Regions from separate parts of the Homo sapiens genome. Here region 2 is linked to region 1. A link means that fine-mapping ties the variant in region 1 to the expression of a gene that starts in the linked region. Tissue or cell type: prefrontal cortex. Region 1 holds a variant in brackets; the other region holds the start of a gene. All regions are shown on one strand. Distances are between the middles of the regions.

Evidence for each region. PIP is the estimated chance that this variant, and not a neighbour inherited with it, causes the effect.
Region 2: HOMER3-AS1 starts here. The variant in region 1 is fine-mapped to the expression of HOMER3-AS1 in prefrontal cortex (ROSMAP, PIP 0.95).

The regions. Positions count from the first base shown.
Region 1 is chr19:18,895,637-18,898,288 of GRCh38, forward strand. It overlaps CERS1 (ceramide synthase 1), which reads right to left and starts at 522. Exons shown (of 8, transcript NM_021267.5): 1 at 188-522. The coding sequence starts at 436. It overlaps GDF1 (growth differentiation factor 1), which reads right to left and starts at 522. Exons shown (of 8, transcript NM_001492.6): 1 at 188-522. The variant C/CG (reference allele first, on the strand shown) is at 1,288.
Region 2 is chr19:18,938,917-18,941,594 of GRCh38, forward strand. HOMER3-AS1 (HOMER3 antisense RNA 1) reads left to right here and starts at 1,338. Exons shown (of 3, transcript NR_134913.1): 1 at 1,338-1,708. HOMER3 (homer scaffold protein 3) reads right to left here and starts at 2,301. Exons shown (of 10, transcript NM_004838.4): 1 at 2,135-2,301; 2 at 53-133. The coding sequence starts at 66. RefSeq lists a silencer at 2,265-2,464.

The sequences.
Region 1 (2,652 bases):
AGAGACCTTATCCTGGGGCTCCAACGTCCTGGGCCTCTCCAGCCCGAGGCCCCCACCCACGTTCCGGCGACCCCTTCATCCGCAGCAGCCAGCGCTGGAAGAAAGGAACGCGCCGGCGGCCCCAGGTCCCCGGTCCCGGCTTCCCCCAGTCCGGGGTCCCCTCGTCCCGGCCCCCGGCCACACTGACCCGAAAGAGGCGCGCAGTGGCCGCGGAGCGCAGGGCGGTCCAGCCCAGCGCGCCGAGCGCCAGCAGCAGCAGCTCGGGCGGCGCCAGGTGCGCGTGCTCAGCCAGGCCGCGACGCGCCAGCCCCCAGCCGCAGTCCGTGCAGCCCCGCGCCGCCGCCAGCGCGCTGCCCCAGCCGCGCTGCACTAGCTGCGCGTAGCTCGGCATGGGCTCGGGCCCCGTCGGCCCCGCCGCGGGCCCCGCCGCCGCCATACCGCCCGCTCGCCCGCCGTGCCCGTCGCCTGCGCCCGCCCGCGGTAGCCGACGGAGCCGCGCGCCCCGCGTCACGCGCCGCAGCTGGGCCGGGGGCGCGCGGGCGGGAGAGCGGAGGGCGGAGGGGCGGGACCGGCGCAAGCTCCGCCCCGCTGGGGGCGCGGCTGGGGGGCGGCCAGCGGGGACGCGGGGCGCCCTGGAGGCGGGCCCGCGCCCCTGCCCGTTTCCCAGCAGAGAAACCCAGGCGCGGGGGCCGGAGCTGGGGGCCCGTTGGACCTGGACCCCGAGAGACCCCGCGCACCGCCGTGTCGCGCCCCCATGCCTGCCCCGCGCGCCCCCCGCTCCCCCACCCCACCGCGCCGTGCCCGTGACGGGGGGCACGGGGGACACTAGCAGGCAGTCCCCTCGACTGGCGACCCCCGCTTCTCCCGGCCCTCCAGCACGCCACGCCGCTCCCGCTCCATCGCCCCGGCCCGCTCCGACCTCACCGTTCTTGGAGCCCTCGCTCCTTCTCAAGGACCCGAGGCCTGGCACGCCTTGGCACAGTCTTGGGACCATCCCGTGGCCCTCCCGCATTCAGGAGGCGTAGGCTCAATGAAACATTCTCATTCTTCAAAAGGACACGGCCCACGCCAGGGCGTTGGGAGGCGCACCTAGTGGAGACGCAGCTCTCTGCCCTACACCAGGAGCTTGGCAATGGGGTTCCAGCTTGGACGCGGGTACCCTGGGCACTTCCCAGGCATCTTCTTCTGCAGGTCTGCACAGCGGGCTACTGGGACAAAGGTGTGATGGGGGCTGCTGAGATTAGGGGGTTCTCTGAGGGTCACTTGCTGCTGTGACCCTGGGGAACC[C/CG]GGGGGGGGGGCTCCCCAACATCAGGTTAATACATGAGTTGCAGAGAGGCTGCAGGAGTGGGTGCCAACGTGGGAGGGACTCCCAATCTGGATCGACTGTGACATCATTGGGACCACCATAAGTGACTTTCCAATGCACTGTTCATTGACAAGGCCCTGTGCCCAAAGCCACTGAAGGCCATCGAGGAAGACACTGGTCACCTCTGTTAGGACCGCCATCTCCCCAGGCACTGCTGCACCCCCCCTCCATCCTAGCCCGCAGGATGTCCCCACACCTGGCCTTCAAGGTGCAGGATGCAGGGATGAGTCCTGCAGCAGCCGCGCTGGCTCCCGAACACCTGCACCTGAACTTCAGGGGCACAGGTGAACACACCTTCCCCTTGCCCCACACCGAGTCCCCCACAACACATCCAGGTGGCCCTGCATCTGGCCACTTCTCTGCATCTGCACAGCCTTGCCCCCCGCTCCCCGCCACCACCACCACTACCACCACTACCCTCTTCCGTCTGGTATCCTGGCTTCCTCCTCACCCCACAGAGGTGAGAAGGTGGCTGCGACGCTGTTGGCCTGTTCCTCGTCTGCTTGCAGCCCTCTATGGCTCCTGTTCCACTCAGGGAAAGCCCAAGTCCTCACTGGCTGCCCTCACAGCGCCCTGTTTCCCTCCGCCTGTGGGCTTTTCTGCTGTTCTTCCAACATGCCAAGCTCTGTCCTGCCTCAGGGCCTTTGCACTAGCTGTTCCCCCCTCCTGAAATGCTGTTCCCCTAGGTACCTGCATGGCTCTTCTGCCACCTGCTCAGGCTGCCCCCGACTCTGAAGTCACACGCCCCTCATGTCTTCATGTCTGCTTGGCACTTGTCACCATCTGCCCCTACATACATACAGCTCATTTTTTTTTTTGAGTTGGAGTCTTGCTCCGTTGCCCAGACTGGAGTGCAGTGGCGCAATCTCAGCTGACCGCAACCTCCGCCTCCCAGGTTCAAGGGATTCTCCTGCCTCAGTCTCCCGAGTAGCTGGGATTACAGGCGCCTGCTATCACACCCAGCTAATCTTTGTATTTTCTGTAGAGACAGGGTTTTGCCATATTGGCCGGGCTGGTCTCGAACTCCTGACCTCAAGTGATCTGCCTGTCTTGGCCTCCCAAAGTGCTGGGATTACAGGCATGAGCCACCGTGCCTGGCCCCACTCTTTATTCTTGAACGTGGACTCCATGTGGACTAGGGGCCTAGTGTAGGGGTGGGGCACGAGGCTTGGCCTGGCCAATAGTTCAGGTCCAGCCGGAGGCCAGAGATGTGACTAACGCCACAACCTGCCTGGCAGGCAGAGGGGGACGAGGGGGATATGCTCTCAAAGGTCCAGCCAGGCCTG
Region 2 (2,678 bases), 43 kb after region 1:
GGCACCCCCACTTAGAAAGCTCAGGGCCAGGCTGGGGGAGGTGGGAGCTCACCTGGCTGTGGACATTGGTCAGGCTGGGATGGGCAGGCTCTAGGGGGCAGCCAGAGAGGTGGCAGGAGCACTGGTTTGGCCCCTAGGGAGAGAGGAGGGACTATGAGTGTCCCTCAGGCCAGGCTGAGGGAGGCCAAGCAGGTTCCATCTCAGGACCCATCACCAGGTGTGCCCGTCATGGAACTTTCAATCAAAAAGGCAGGAGAGGCCCAAAGTACACCTGGTGCTTTGGGAGGCTGAGTCAGGAGGATCCTTTGAGCCCAGGAGTTCGAGACCATCCTGAGCAACATGGCGAGACCCCATCTCTACCAAAAATTTAAACAATTAGCTGGGTGTGGTGGCATGTGCCTGCCGTCCCAGCTACTGGGGAGGCTGAGGTGGGAGGATCACTTGAGCCCAGGAGGTCAAGGCTGCAGTGCAGTGAGCTATGGTCAGGCCACTGCACTCCAGCCTGGACAAGAGAGTGAGACCCTGTCTCAAAAAAGAAAGAAATTATAAAAAGAAACAAAAAGGTAAGATAATTATTATAGATAACTCAGAGCAAGCAGACCCCATCTTTCTTTGTCTAGGGGAAGCCCCCACAACACCCTGTACAGGAGATGGCCCTCTGAGAGGAGCCTGGTGGCCGCTGACATCCAGATGTAAATTTCTCATTGTCCTGGTTATTGCACCCCCGTGAAGTCCCCTCCATCCCAGGCTGAGCTGTGGAGGCCAAATCTCTGCTGAGTTCTTTCCACCACATTCACCCATGACTGGCCAGAGCGGGGCTCTCCACCAAAAAATGGGGCGTTGAGAGGTGTGTAGTACCAGGAGACCAGTTCCCCACTACACCCTGCAGAGGGACCCCACCCCCAGCAGCTCCCACCCTAGGGCAGAAGCACACCTTGAAGTCCAGAGTCCAAATCCCCAGGGAGCCCCCAGCCAAGTTAAAAAGACAAGATGTAGACAAACAGCCAATCCCAATGCCCACCATGAGGGCAGAGCAGAATCCACACTGGGAGACCAGGGCTCCCCAACCTCCCCATTGGGCCATTCAGCAACCCCGAATCTGCAGGGGACCAAGGAGGAGTTTGGAGGAGGGGGAAGACAGGTGGGGGAGGGGAGGCCCTGGCCCAGCGGCCTCTGTGGTCAAAGGGGGGATGCCCCCCCTATCCTGTCCTGGGCAGCTGCTGTCCTGGTCACAGGGTCTGAAACCGGAGCCCCTGAGTGGGGGTGGGGCGGCAGCTCTGGCCTGGACTGGGGGCGGGTCCTGCGCCGGGTGGGAGTTGGGGAACACAGGGGTCCCCGGAACCCAGGCCCTTCCGGTCCGGCAGCTCCTGCTGCGACTTGCAGCGTTTGGGGAAAGTTACTCACCAACTAGTCATGCGCCTCGGATGCCGCCGGCCACGGGGCTCCCGGAGGGGGGTCCGACACCGCCCGGTGCCCGGGATCCCCAATCTGGCCGGTGGATGAGGCCCCATCCCATGCACCCGAGTGCGGGGGACGGGGGGGTTAATATTAATTCAGGATCCCATCCCCACCCGAGGCAGGACACCCAGTGCACGCCCCAACTCCGGGACGCGGGCTCTGACCCTGGAACTTCCGAGATTCCCGCGACGCCCCCTGTCTCTGGGTCCAGAACTTCGGGGGACACCTCTTCTGCCTCCTCCAACCCCAGGTCGGTAACTCCGGGGACTCCCTTCGTGACTCCTCCTCTAACTGGGTCCGGGACCCCGGTCCTCCGCGTTGTCCTAGACTCCTAAACTTCGAGGACCCCCTGCCACCCCTCCAGTCCCTGGGTCCGGGACGTCCGGACCCCTCCCACCCCAGTACCCCACCCCAGGTCCGCAGCTTTGGGGACCTCTTCGCAGCCTCCTCCAACGCCGGGTCCAGAACTTTGGGAACCTCCCACGCAGTCCCCTCTCAGACCCTGAATCCAGAACTTCGGGACCCCCGCGCTCCCTCCAGCCCTGGAACTTGGGGACCCCTCGCGCCGCTCCCAGTCCCGGGTCCGAAACTTCTGGGGAACCCCCACGCCCTCCCCTTGGCCCTGGGACTTCGAGGCCCCCGCGCTCCCAGCGCAGGCTCGGCAGGCCGGGCTCACCCTGCCAGGTCGGCGCCCCGCGAGTGTCCAGGCGCGAGTCGGGTGCGGCCCCCGCGGCGCTGACTCCGCGCTGCCGGGCGCCCCGCTCGCTCCCTGGCTCCCGGGCCCGCGCCCTCCGCGCCGCCCTCCACGCCGCCCGTGCCTTTGTCTGCGCCGCCGCCGCCCGCGCCGCCTCCGGTCCCATCGCGGCCGGTCCCGACGCGGCCGCCGCCCGCCCCGCCTCCCCGGGCCGCCAAGGCCGCCCCGCTGCGCCCCCTGCCGGCTTTTTGCACTGGGAGAGGGTATGGGGGAGGGGATAAGGGGGAGGGGCGGGGGCCGGGACTGGGGAAGGGACGGAGGATTGAGGGAGGGGGTTAGGGGCGGTGGAGGGGGAGTGGGGGGGGGGGTTGCGTGGGGTCGGGTTGGGAGCAGAGGGTGGGGACAGAGAGACAGACGGAGAGGGACATCTGGGATGAGAAAGAGACCCAGAAACAGAGACACGGGGGAGACAGGCGGAGAGATAGGAAGCAGATGGAGAGAGTTGCACGGACAGCGATGTGACCTC